Linked DNA regions of Homo sapiens. The protein of the gene in region 1 interacts with the protein of each later gene in a pairwise test. Each region holds a gene or a part of one and is shown on either strand. Other genes may lie near its edges.

The links. The genes of interacting proteins can lie anywhere in the genome.
Region 2: the proteins of ARMCX1 (region 1) and ZBTB8A interact in binary tests that used the Homo sapiens proteins (3 or more experiments, as listed by UniProt).

The regions. Positions count from the first base shown.
Region 1 is NC_000023.11:101,546,223-101,553,568, reverse strand, and holds the start of ARMCX1 (armadillo repeat-containing X-linked protein 1), read right to left. Parts: upstream 3,023-7,346; 5' UTR 2,909-3,022; intron 2,599-2,908; 5' UTR 2,545-2,598; intron 2,001-2,544; 5' UTR 1,936-2,000; intron 761-1,935; 5' UTR 639-760; coding exon 1-638. UniProt on the Homo sapiens protein: Regulates mitochondrial transport during axon regeneration. Increases the proportion of motile mitochondria by recruiting stationary mitochondria into the motile pool. Enhances mitochondria movement and neurite growth in both adult axons and embryonic neurons.
Region 2 is NC_000001.11:32,542,401-32,549,426, reverse strand, and holds part of ZBTB8A (zinc finger and BTB domain-containing protein 8A), read right to left. Parts: intron 1-7,026. UniProt on the Homo sapiens protein: May be involved in transcriptional regulation.

The sequences.
Region 1 (7,346 bases):
ATGTTGAGGACCTTTTGGAGGTCGGGAGCACTCAGAATATCATCAATTTTATAAGGAAAGTTGAACTTGCCTCTCCGGACAGGCCATGTTGTAGCTGGAGCCCTGGTGCTCTTACTTCGGGCCTTTCCCTTGGATTTTCCACTTGCCCTGCCCCCGGCCCTAGATCCACTCCTGGTGGGGTGGCAGCCTCCACCCCTGCCTCCTGGGCAGGGTAAACTCGGTGCAAGGGTCCTGTTCCCAGAGATGGTACCCACCCTAGCCCCTTTGCCTGCCTTTGCACTTGCCTGTTCCTTCAGCGTGTTGAAAAGGGCCTTGGCCTTGGCCTCTAGGCCACCTCCGCTGTGGGATCCTGAATGGGCCTTCTCTTTTACACCCGGACAATCCTCGAGTCCCAAACTCACCTCAGGCTTGACCTCTGAATCACCCTGAAGTTTGGCCCCAGACCCTGCCCCAGCGTTAGTTTTAGCTCCTTTCACAGTCTCAACCCCAATCTCTGAGGTGTCCGTAGACTCCTCGTCTTCGTCCCAGATTTTCTCGTTCTCGTCTCTTCCCCAAGCCAGTCTGTATACACAGTAGCAGGCACCAGCCCCGATAACCACACCAGCGGCCACGCAGCCAGCTTCCCGAGTGCGGCCCATGGTATAGCTGGGACAAATCTCTTAACCCGAGCACAAAACAGGCTCGCTCTGGCCCAGAGAAGCGCGCACACGTCGCGGGCGGAGTCTGCAGCTACTGCGGGCCGGCTCTGAGGCAGCTCGACCTAGGAATAAAGGATGCATTTCAGATTTCAGGCTCCTTTTTGTGTCTTTGAACGCAAACAGACTGAAACAACAACAAAACAAACAAACGTACAAAAATACAGAGATACTGGCAGAGACTCGGGGCTTGATATCTAGATCACTGATTCCTTTCTTCCACCCGGAAGCTAAGTTTGGAAATTTTCCCCGCTTAAAGACTCTCCAACCTCACGTTCCACCACCCCACCCTAGAACGTTAAAGTTCCCTGCCACCCCTGCCCTTCCAGATGTCCTGTGAACAGTGGCGCCCTCACATGCACCCACAGAGGTCCAGGCAGTTTTTTTTCCTTCTCTTTCTTGCTTCCAAGTGCACTGCTTCGTGCAAACCTGCAGACCAAGGGCGCGGGGAGAGGGGTACTGAGAGCTCTGGGTACATATAGATCTCACCCGGGACGGGGCACACATCCCTCTTCTGAATTCCTAGCCCTTTACAACTGCCTTGCCCAATGTTTCCCGCCTTCGGTTACCCTCCTCTCCTCACAGAGCTGCGGCTTTGGAATTCATTATCTCCCTCCCTCTTCCTCCTTCGATGATTCCTCTAACCCTCCATTCCACCTCCACCCCTACTCCCATCATTGGCATCCTCCGAAGATGTCGCCACACATTTTCATCGTTAACATTTTCCTTGTAACAAAATGAAGTGAGAATATCTAAAAGCCGTACTGGCGTGAAATGCCTAAAGGTCTCCAACTCCGCCCTTGCCTCCGCCAACTCCTCCATCTCAAATGTACCAGGACACCGCCGCCCCCCCCCCCCACCCCGTGTCATTATACCAACTACCTCTGCTCCGGAGCAATTTCTTACCTCCCTCACCTCGGTTTCCGCTTCCACTAAACCTTCAAGACTGACAAACTTCAGAAGTGAGTGCTTGGTCGACGGACCAACACCAAGGACCCTGTACCCCAAACAGTAATTTGGAGTAACGTCCTCCCAACCCCTGGACTCTCTTGACGCCCACCCCTTCTCAGCTATTTTCTTCCCTGTCTTGTACTTGCAGAACAATTTCTTTTGCAAGCTCCGAAATGGTGTAGATAAGAGGGAAGGAGGGGGATATGGAAGGGGTCCACGGGCCCATTCGAGTTGCAGTCGCCACCATGCTCCACCCCCAAATAATGCCATCACCCTTATTATGACCTACTTGGTTCTTGACAACTTTGCGTTTCTTCCTGCTCCAAGGGTTGGACTGGCCTCCGGCCCCAAGATCTGCAGACACAGGCAACAAGGCAGAAACTGAAGGCTCAGCGGACAGAAAAGCACTTCGGGGAGTCCCAATATCCACTTCTCCTAATTCAGGGTCCTGGCTGTCAATGGATTTTACCTTTTTGTTTCTCACCCTACCCTCACTTCTCTGGACTCCGCTGACACCAGCCCTGTCGCTTGGTAGTGTTCCCCTACCCCCGTCCCCGCCCCCGGCCCTCACTCCCTCCCGCAGCCCCAGCGGTCGGCCATTTTCCCAGCAAAACCACACCCCTTTCAAACCACTGGAAGCGGGGCGGGGCGAGGGGGGATATGGAAAATCCGAGGAGAAAAACAAAACCAACCGATCTCTTCTATTCCTCTCCCCAACGCACCCTACCCGCAATCACAAGCACTTTTCCTGCAGCCACTGTTACATCCTCTTTTACTGAAGAAAAAAAAAATGGCAGGAAGATTGCTTGAGAGTCGGTAAAGGGCCCAAGTTAAGGCAAGGACCTCAGTCATCCCAGTCCTTCTGGGCGCCGCGGGACAGCTCCAGCTTTACACTGACCTGCAGGGATTCCAGGCAGACTATTCCTTTGTTCCCAAATGGCACAGCGTCCTACTGAAAGAAAAGGGGTATGACTGTCAGACGCACAGCCCCAAGATTCTGGCTTGGTAGATGGGCCAGCACACAGGACATGAATCCGAATATCCGCCCTCCCTGATTCAAGGCCCTGGATGTTAAAGGTCCCACGACGCCCGAGTCTGGGGTCGCCCCTGGAATCCGGCCCCAAGGTCTACCATTTTTGTTCTAGAAAGGGCAAGGGATACTGCAAGGGTTTGGAGAAAGTGAACTGTGCTCCCCCTTCGGCCTCCACGGTTCACTGCCCGCGCCGCAGGGATCCCCTGGCAACGCCCATCCACACACAAACCTGCTGGGATCCAGGCAGAACCTCGTCCTCCTTCCCCCAGGCCACAGGCCCTCTCGCCCTCTGGGCTATAGGAAGAGTGCAACCGGACCAAACGAAGACTAGGATTAGAAGGACGTCTGCACGCGTCGGCTCCAGCTCACGTGAGGGCCACGTCAACCATGAGATCAGGACCCCAATTACCACTCCCATCAGCAGCGCCGCAGAAGCCGGCCCTCCCCTTCCTTCCCTGACACATCAGGTCCTGTCACTCATTTTCCTCTTTGCCAACCCCGGAGACTAGAAGTAGCTTCTCTTTGTGGTGAATTTGCCTTTCTTTGGTTTACAGGGAGAGGCTGTATCTGCTCCCGTGTCCGTTGGCCTTTTCTTCCTCTTCGAGGAATAATTTTTTATCTTCTCTAGTCCCAGTCCAACTGTCTCTCTCTATACCTCCCCCCATCACAAGTCATGAATGTCCTATTTCTTCTGCACCCCTGTAAAATGTGGAGCAAGATGTTAGAAAAGGAGATAGATCGTGGGAGTGTCTTATTTAAACTTTTCTGCTCATTTGTTTTTAAATCAGTAACGCATTACTTTTATATTGAGAAAATAAAATGATGCTATTTTCCTTTGAGTGGAGAGTTTAAACGGGAGAGAAAACCCAAAAGGCCTCATTAATTTCGTTATTTTATTTGTAACAGTAGGAAAATATTTCTACTGGTTACAGCCAATTAGTAGCTTTTAAAACAAAATAACTCATTTTAAAATTGAAAAGTGGGCTGAGGTGGGTGGATTGCTGGAGCCCAGGAGTTTAAGGCTGCAGTGAGCTATGATGTCACCACTGCACTCCAGCCTGGGTGACAGAGAGCAAGCCTCTATCTCTTAAAAAAAATGGATTTTTTTTACATGATCTATGAATTACTCCACAAAGAGACGACCAGTTGTCTAATCTTGGCCATTTTACACAAATAATTCCTTACTTTTTCTATTTTTGAATCAACTTGCAATTTGATAAGTTAAAGCAACACAACCCTGTCTTATTAAATTAAAGAAAAGCATGTATTTAACGTCCCAAAGTCTTGACCGACTGTTATATGAACCTCTTGTGATTTGATGGCTACTCTGATCACCTGCCTCTGAATTGAATTCCAGTCTACCAAGGCTGAGGCACCTGAGGGTGTGAGGGATGCAGCGATGTTCTAATCCTTCCTGCCCTGTCAAGAGCGGAAGAAGGTGCTGCCCTCCCACCCTTCCACATTCCATAGCCTCTCATCCCCTGTATTCAGGCACCCATCTATTGTTCACTCCAAAAATATATATAGATGAGTGACCAAGGTGGTAAATGCCACGTTTACTCAGGTGACCAATCAGAGTAAATACCTTTGGCTCCTTCCCTTCCTTCCCCAAATTCCCACAGAGGTAACAGCAATGCATCGAAGGGCTTTCTGTTCCTACCTACCCCTCTGCCCTTATTCATGGTGCCTGAGTGAGCATTGCTCCTAATACTGTGTGCTGCCACCACCTGACCTGAGAGGTGCAGCCCGCTGGGCTTCTTGCCTCTGGCTTCCTTAAAAAGAGAACCTAATCTTGTTGCAGAGTTACTGCCTGCCAGTCCATATCCACCTTGGTGCCCGCTCAGCCAAATGTATGCCTAAGGAACAATCCCCATGGATTAACCCAGAGTAGGCATTCTCACACGGACAACCTTGTGGACCACCTGCAATTGTGGTCATACGTATATTCATTTTCGTGGAGAAAGGAGCCATAGCTTTCATCAGATTCTCACAGGCATGTATGACTTTTAAAAAATAACTAAGAACTATTAATACTTTCCTGAAAAAAAGCTATATATCCCCTCAATAGAAAATCTACTCCTTCCCAGCACTGTGGGAGGCTGAAGCTGGCAGATCACTTGAGGTCAGGAGTTCGAGACCAGCCTGGCCAGCATGGTAAAACGCCATCTTTATTAAAAATACAAAAATTAGCCGGGAATGGTGGCACGAACCTGTAGTCCCAGCTACTTGGGAGGCTGAGGAAGGAGAATTGCTTGAACCCAGGAGGCATAGGTTGCAGTGAGTTGAGATTGTGCCATTGCACTCCAGCCTGGGCAACAGAGCAAGACTCCATCTCAAAAAAAAAAAGAAAAAGAAAAAGAAAGTCTATTCCTCTCCCCTCTTCTCTGTCTCTAGTTATATACTTATTTTTTTAAGTGCAGAAATCTGTAGAGTAGAATGCAAAACTGCCCTGCAATGCCTATTCTACCACCAAGCACTTTCAATGATATCGACCTTTCTTCCTGCAAATATACAGTATATGTATGTGGATGTGTCAAGTTCCAAGTTGAACAATATGCAAAACAAAACAATTGACATTTACTGCAGTACTTGCAATAAATCTGCACTTTAATTGGAGAATTTACATCTTTAAAAATGGAGTCTTTCTATCCATGCCAACTTTTGAGATTTTCAATAAATGTGATGTTTCTTTATACTCATTTCTTATTATGTTTGTGTTTTGTTTATATGAATGACATTCCCATTATGATTACACATTCTACCTGGTTATTGTTTGTCTCAGGTAAAGTAATTAATTATGATATATTTATCTTTAGTGACCATTCTTATTATTTCTAATAGTTTTTTCATCGATACTTTTGGTTTTTCCAGGTATGCATGCATAATATCTGCAAATGATGATTTTTCATTTCTTCTTTTCCAGTATTTATATTCTTTATTCTTTTATTTTCTGCATGTATTCCATTGACCAGAACCTGCAGAACTAGTTTGAATGATAATGGTGATTGAGGGCCTCCAGATCTTATTCTTGAAGAAAATGGGAGTGTCCTTAGTATTTCATTGTTTAGTGCAACCTGACATTTGCTGTTTGTTTTTCATGTGTTCTTCTTCATCTGTGTATGGATGATTTGGGGGATGCCTAAAGGTGCACTTTTATAACCCTTTATATAAGACTGAGGAAAATTAAATTGTCCATATCATAATACTGGGAAGGAGAGGAAATAGGGAGAGCGGCCACAAGTGCTGAGCTTATGGGGAATGTATTGGTGAGCAAAAACAACACAGACTCTTCTCTCGTGGTGGAAATAAGACCTTAATAAAATGAGCGCATACACACACACACACACACACACACACACACACACACACACACACAGAGAGAGAGAAAAATACTGTAAAGGAAAAAACCTCTGTTAATATCGTTTTTAAAAAAGGGGCATAGTCTGAGGATCAGGGAAAGTTTCCTTGCTGGGGCAGAGAGAGTGAAGTTTTCAGCTGAGATGAAGAAAAGCAGGTGGTAACTAGGAAAAGAGGGGAACAGAAAATAAAAAATCTCAACTTCCCCACCCCTCTGATAACTACTGTGATAACCAATCTACTTCAATCCTAGGATAAATCCTATGAAAACCACTGTTAATTTTTCAGGTGACTCTTTCCAGGTTTTGTTGTTGTTTCACATATATTACTAAAAAATATATGTAGATACATTATGTGTGTGTGTACACATATATCTTTCTAAAATAATTTGGGATTATACTATGCATATTATTCTGCATAACTATTTTTTTCACCTGATATATCATGTGAATCTTTTTAGCAGACACACTAATATTCTGAAGCGTGGATTTACCAGAATTTAACCAATCTTTTACTGATGGATACTTAGCCTCTTCCTAATCTTTATCTATTACAAAGATGCCACAGTGAAGACTTCTGTCTATATATATTTTGGCAACTATGATATTATTTCCTCAAGATAAATTCCTAAAAGTAAAATAATTGTGTCAAAATGGGTGTTCATTTTAAATTTTACCCATGCTGCCAACTTTCACCTCTTAAATTTATATATATATATAGGTCGATCGATAGATAGATATATATATATGCATTCTATGTTGTGCTCCAAATAATTAATTTATTTAATTATAAGTGAGATTAAACATCTTCTTAGAGGTTTGTTAAGCATCTGTATTTATCTTTCTGTGTACTGTCTTTCCTCATTTTTTTACTAAGTTGTTCATCTGTTTCTTACTAATACATAAGAACTTTCTGCAAATTAAGCAAATGAGTCTTTTGACTTCAATAAGTGTTATAAATATTTTCCCGATTTATAATTTTTTGGACTTCTATATAGAATTTTTTATATTTACAGTACAAAATTTACCAACTTTTTTTCTTTTTTTTATTATACTTTAAGTTCTAGGGTACATGTGCACAACGTGCAGGTTTGTTACATATGTATACATGCGCCATGTTGGTGTGCTGCACCTATTAACTCGTCATTTACATTAGGTATATCTCCTTTTTTTATTATTATTATACTTTAAGTTTTAAGGTACATGTGCACATTGTGCAGGTTAGTTACATATGTATACATGTGCCATGCTGGTGCGCTGCACCCACTAACTCGTCAACTAGCATTAGGTATATCTCCCAATACTATCCCT
Region 2 (7,026 bases), on another chromosome or scaffold:
TACCTCTTGGGTTCAAGCGATTCTCCTGCCTCAGCCCCCCAAGTAGCCGGGATTACAGGAACATCCCACCATGCGTGGCTAATTTTTATATTTTTAGTAGAGACAGGGTTTCACCATGTTGACCAGGCTGGTCTCGAACTACTGACCTCAGGTGATCCGCCCGCCTCGGCCTCCCAAAGTGCTGGGATTACAGGCATGAGCCACAGCACCCAGCGAGGTGTTTTGTTTTGTTTTGTTTTGAGACAGAGTCTGACTCTGCCCTCCAGGTTGCAGTGCAGTGACGTGATCTCGGCTCATGGCAACCTCTGCCTCCCGGGTTCAAGCGATTCTGTCTCTGCCTCTGGAGTAGCTAGGACTACAGGTGCGGGCCACCATACCCGGCTAATTTTTGTATTTTCAGTAGAGATGAAGTTTCACCATATTGGCTAGGCTGGTCTCAAACTCCTGACCTCATGATCGGCCTGCCTCAGCCTCCCAAAGTGCTGGGATTACAGGCATGAGCCACGGTGCCTGGCCCCGGCCAGGTATTTCTTTTTATCAATGAGAGCATGGACTAATACAGGGACAATAATAATACCTATAGCTTACAGAGCTGCGAGATGGAGAATATTAGAAGCTAATCCAAGAAACGTGCTTATAACAGTGCCTGGCTTATAACAAGCCCTTGATAAATGTCAGCTATTATTATTATTATTAATTATCTAAACATTTAAAAACACTGCTTTCAATGAGTACAAAATGTAAACATTTTAGAGTTTTATTGCCACACATTTTCTTGTCTTATACAAATGGGGATACAGAAAGGAGGCTCACGCCTGTAATCCTAGCACTTTGGGAAGCTGAGGCGGGTTTATCACCTGAGGTCAGGAGTTCAAGACCAGCCTGGCCAACATGGCAAAACCCCATCTCTACTAAAATACAAAAATTAGCCGGGCATGATGGCGGGTGCCTGTAATCCCAGCTACTTAGGAGGCTGAGACGGGAGAATCGCTTGAACCCTGGAGACGGTGGTTGCAGTGAGCCGAGATTGCACCACTCCACTCCAGCCTGGGCGGCTGAGTGAGACTCTGTCTCAAAACAAAAACAAAAACAAAAACAAAAAATGTGGATACAGAAAAAAAAAATGTTTTTTGACTGGTTTCATCATATTCATGTACCTAGAGAGAGTGAGAGCGATCATTTCAAAACTACATGTGTACCTGGGAATAGCAACCCTCGACTCCAACTAGTCAATTGCAGACCTCACCTTAAGGAAGGATTATTCTTTTTTTTTTTTTTTTTTTTTTTTTAATTTGAGACGGAGTCTAGCTCTGTCGCCCAAGCTGGAGTGCAGTGGTGCAATCTCGGCTCACTGCAACCTCTACCTCCCGGGTTCAAGTGATTCTACTGTCTCAGCCTCCTAAGTAGCTGGGATTACAGGTGCCGGCCACCATGCCCAGCTAATTCTTGCATTTTTAGTAGAGATGGGGGTTTCACTGTTTTGACCAGGCTGGTCTCGAACTCCTGACCTCATGATCCACCTGCCTCGGCCTCCCAAAGTGCTGGGATTACAAGTGTGAGCCACTGCGCCTGGTCTTTTTTTTTTTTTTTTTTTTTTTGCTTTGTTTGTTTTTTGTTTTAGACAGAATCTTTCTCTGTTGCTCAGGCTGGAGTGCAGTGGTGAGATCACAGCTCACTGCAGCCTTGACCTCCCCGGGCTCAGGTGATCCTCCCACCTCAGCCTTCTGAATACAAGTGTGTGCCAAATTATTCTTGAGAAACCATTTTTGCCTTTTTTTCTTTCTTTTTTTTTTTTTTTTTGAGATACAGACTTGCTCTGTCACTCAGGCTGGAGTGCAGTGGCCTGAGAATGAGATCTATAACCTAAAATAAGATTTGCAACCTAAAAGTTTATGTTTTAATGTTGCTGAGTACAGTGGCTCGAACCTGTAGTCCCAGCTACTCAGGAGGCTAAGGCAGGAGGGAAGATCCCTTGAGCCCAGGAGTTCGAGGCTGCAGTGAGCAATGCTCATGCCACTGCACTCTAGCCTGGGCAACAGGGCAAGACTCCATCTCTACTAAAAAAAAAAAAAAAGAAAGAAAAGAAAATTTGTTTATACTTAGAATACTACTCTAATGTATATATTTAAAAAGTCATGGATAAAATTATGGCTTAGTTTGGTTTGCTGAGGTATCTTCTGGTGATGAAAAATACATTGCAGATTTTGGAATAAAACTTCCCCCAGCCGGGCATGGTAGCTCATATCTATAATCCTAGCACTTTGGAAGGCCCAGGCAGGAGGATCACTTGAGCCCAGGAGTTCGAGACCAGCCTGGGCAACATGGCGAGACCTCATCTCTACAAATAATTAAAAAATTAGCCAGGTGTGTGGTAGTATATGCCTGTGGTCCCAGCTACTCAGTAGGCTGAGGTGGGAGGATCACTTGAGCCTGAGAGGCTGAGGCTGCAGTGAGCTGTGATTGTGCCACTGCACTCCAGCCTGGGCAACAGGGCAAGACCCTGTCTCAAAAACAAAAACAAAAAACTTCCCCCAGATATTCTGGAACTGTAAGAATTTTATGTTGGACCTAGTCCAACAGCGCCAGGGAGACAGAGGGAACTGAAGGTGATATAAGGCATCCGCTATGCCCTCCGTGTTTCACATGCTGCTGAGAGCCACAGGATTCAAAGCAATGGAGGTTTTCTGAAGGGTCAGAAAAACAGCCGAAAGAAAACAACTTCATCTTTTGATACAATCATTAATTTTACATTGTTCTGAACTCCACAGAAGTATATTTTCCTTTTTTAAATTCTTGAGACAAGGTCCCACCAGCCTGGAGTGCAGTGGTACGATCTTGGCTCACTGCAGCCTTGGCCTCCGGGGCTCAAGTGATCCTGCTTCAGTCTCCCACATAGGTGGGACTATAACAGTGTACCACCATGTCTGGCTCTTTCTATATTTTAACAGAAAAATCTTTTATTTATTTATTTATTTTTTTTTTTGAGACAGAGTCTCACTCTGTTACCCAGGCTGGAGTGCAGTGGCATGATCTTGGCTCACTGCAACCTGCCACTCCTGGGTTCAAGTGATTCTCATGCCTCAGCCTCCTGAGTAGCTGGGATTACAGGCACGCACCACCACACCTGGCTAATTATTATATTTTTAACAGAGACAGGGTTTCGCCATGTTGGCCAGGCTGGTCTCAAACTCCTGGCCTCAAGTGATCTGCCCGCCTTGGCCTCCCAAAGTGCTGGGATTACACGTGTGAGCCACTGTATGTGGCCCTTTTACTCTATTTTTATGAGAAGGGCAGATACTCAAATTGGCAGGTGAAACGCATTTTATTCAAGACATATTTATTGAGCAACTACTCTATACCAGACTATACCTGGTCCTGAGAATATAGAGGTGATGAAATGTCAAAGGTCAGTGCTCACTTTCAAGCAGCTCACTGTCTAGTAGGAGAGAGAGAGAGTCAGAGAAGAGACAGGAAGAGAAGAGACTTCTAGACAAAGTGACAATACAATGAAGAAAATACTCATAGTAGAAGGGAACTGTAAAACAAAGAAAGCAAATGATTGTACCTGGTAGTATTGAGAAACATTTCCAAAAGGCTCAACGTTTAGGTTGGGTCTTGAAGGATGAAAAGAAGTTTATACATGAGAAAGAGGGCAAAAGGCGTTCTAGCCAGAGAGAGCACCAAATGGGAAGGCAAAAACAGCGTATTAAACAGCATGGCCTCCTAGGGGATGGTAAGAAGTTTGCTATAGCTAGAGACTGTGGGCCTACAGAAGGATGGCAGAAGATGAAACTAGAAAAGTATGTAAGAGCTAGATCTTGGAAGCCCCTCCAGTTTTGGGGGTTCTGAGGCACTTCTGAAGGATTTTAAAAAGAAGAAACACAGGATTATAGGTCTACCAATCATTAGCTGTGTGACTTTGTCAAGTTACTTAACTCTAAGCATTCGTTTCCTTTTTGTAAAATGAGGTTATTGACTGTTTAGAGGCTCTAAGGAAGTCTGTTAAGAGGATTAAATAAGATAATCGCTAAAATAAATAAGATTAAATAAGACAAATAGAAATAAGCACATGAAGAGATGTTTAGCATCATTAATCATTAGAGAAATGCAAATCAAAATCACAATGAGATACTACCTCACACCCACTAGGATAGTTTGCTACAATAATTTTTTAAAATTTTTTTCTTCTTCTTTTTCTATATTTTCTTTTTTTTCCATGTTTTTCCAGAGATATAATAATTTTTTAAAAAACATGAAAATACTAAGTGTTGGCCAGAGTATAGATAAGTAAGAACCTTCACACACTGCTGGTGGAAATATAAAATGGTACAGCGACTTTGGAAAACAGTCTGGGAGTTCCTCAAATGATTAAACATGGAGTTATCATATGACCCAGCAATTTCACTCCTAGGTATATATTCAAGAGTAATGAACACATACGTCTACACAGAAACTGATACACGAATGTTTATAATAGCATTATTTGCAACAGCTAAGAGGTGGAAACAATCCAAATGTCCACTGACGGACAGGTGGGTAAACAAAATGTGGTATACCCATACAATGGAATGTAACTCGGCCATAAAAAGAATGAAGTACTGATATGGTCACGCGCCGCATAACATTTTGGTCAACAACTGACTACATATACGACGGTGGTCCCATAAGATTATAATACCATATTTTTATTGTACCTTTCCTGTGTTTATTTATTTGTTTATTTATTTTTGTAGACAAAGTCTTGCTCTATCCCCCAGGCTGGAGTGCAGTAGCACCATCTCAGGTCACTGCAACCTTCGCCTCCTGGGTTAAAGCAGTTCTCCTGCCTCAGCCTCCTGAGTAGCCGGGATTACAGGCACCCACCGCCATGCCTGGCTAATTTTTGTACTTTTAGTGGAGACGGGGTTTTGCCATGTTGGCCAGGCTTGTCTTGAACTCCTGACCTCGGTGATCCACCCACCTTGGGCTCCCAAAGTGCTGGGATTACAGGCGTGAGCCACTGTGCCCAGCTTTCCTGTGTTTAGATATGTTTAGATACACAAATACTTACCATTGTTTTACAAATGCCTATAGTATTATGCTATACAGGATTGTAGCCTAGGAGCCATAGGCTATACCATACAGCCTAGGCGTGTAGTAGGCTATATCAGCCAGGTTTGTGTAAGTACATTCTATGATGTTCACACAACAACAAAAATCACCTAACAACACATTTCTCAGAACATATCCCCATCATTAAGTGACATATGACTGTATATACTACAACATGGGTGAACCTTAAAAACCTCATGCTGGCTGGGAACGGTGGCGTGAGCCTGTAGTCCCAGCTACTTGGGAGACTGAGGCAGAGGACTGGTTGAGCCCAGGAGGTCAAGGATGTAGTGAGCCAGGATTACGCCACCACAATCCAGTATGGGTGACAGTGAGATCCTGTCTCTAAAAAACAAACAAGTCTGGGTGTGGTGGCTCATGCCTGTAATCCCAGCACCTTGGGAGGCCGAGGCGGGCGGATCATGAGGTCAGGAGACCGAGACCATCCTGGCGAACACGGTGAAACCCTGTCTCTACTAAAAATACAAAAAATTAGCCGGGCATGGTGGCAGGTGCCTGTAATCCCAGCTACTCGGGAGGCTGAGGCAGGAGAATGGCGTGAACCCAGGAGGCGGAGCTTGCAGTGAGCCGAGATCGCGCCATTGCACTCCAGCCTGGGTGACAGAACGAGACTTTGTCTAAAAAACAAAAAACCTGATGCTAAGTTACAGAAACTAGTCATAAAAAATACATATTTTATTTATGATTTTATTCACATGAAATGCCCAGAATGGGTAGATCCACATAGGAAGTAGATGAGGGGTTATCAGGAGCTAGGGAGACATGGGAATAGGAGTGACTGTTAACAGGCATGGGGTTTCTTTATGCAAATGATGAAAATGTTCTGGAGTTAAGAGGGTCATGATGGTTGCACAATTTTGTGACCATATCAAAAAACTGAATTGTACACTTTAAAATGGGTAAATTTTATGGCGTAAGAGTTATATCTCAGGCCAGGCGCAGTGGCTCACACCTGTAATCCCAGCACTTTGGGAAGCTGAGGCGGGTGGATCACCTGAGGTCAGGAGTTTGAGACCAGCCTGACCAACATGGTGAAACCCCGTCTCTACTAAAAATACAAAAAATTAGCCGGGCATGGTGGCAGGTGCCTGTAATCCCAGCTGCTTGAGAGGCTGAGGTAGGAGAATTGCTTGACCCTGGGAGGCGGAGGTTGCAGTGAGCCCAGATCACACCATTGCACTCCAGCCTGGGCAACAAGAGTGAAACTCCGTCTCAAAAAAAGTTATATCTAAAAAAAAAATAGGAATTGTCCTATACACTGGGGTCAGTTACAACCTGATATTCACATTGAAAGGATTTTAACATAACATGCATTCATAGTAGTACTCTTGAGTCATCAAAAAAGGTTTAAGTTATTTTCAGAATTATGTGATTAGGTCATGGAAATCGGTAATGCATTTCAGATTTTCTTCTTTCAGTAGAGTGACTTTATACGTTGAAACAGCAAGTTAGATCAATTTATATGGGACATCCAAAATCCAAATGGAAACATTTTAAATATCTGTAAGAGTTAAATATTATAATAGTCCCAAGAATATAACAGAATTCAAGATTTCCATCAAGTTCAATGATCTTTAAAAAGGTGGTTGGGAAAGACAATTACACATTTTAGGAACCATTAAGTTCGAAAGTCTTTGGAATAGAAGCCAATGACATGTATTTCTATGAGTAGACTGAAGATTTAAGTAGCGAGTGTAACTTGAACTAAGGTTGTCGTTGAGAAGATCAACTCTCTTTTTTTGAGACGGAGTCTTGCTCTGTCGCCCAGGCTAGAGTGCAGTGGCGCAATCTCGGTTTACTGCAACCTCTGCCTCCCAGGTTCAAGTGATTCTCCTGCTTCAGCCTCCCGAGTAGTTGTGATTACAGGTGCCTGCCACTGTGTGCTAATTTTTGTATTTTTAGTAAAGAAGATGG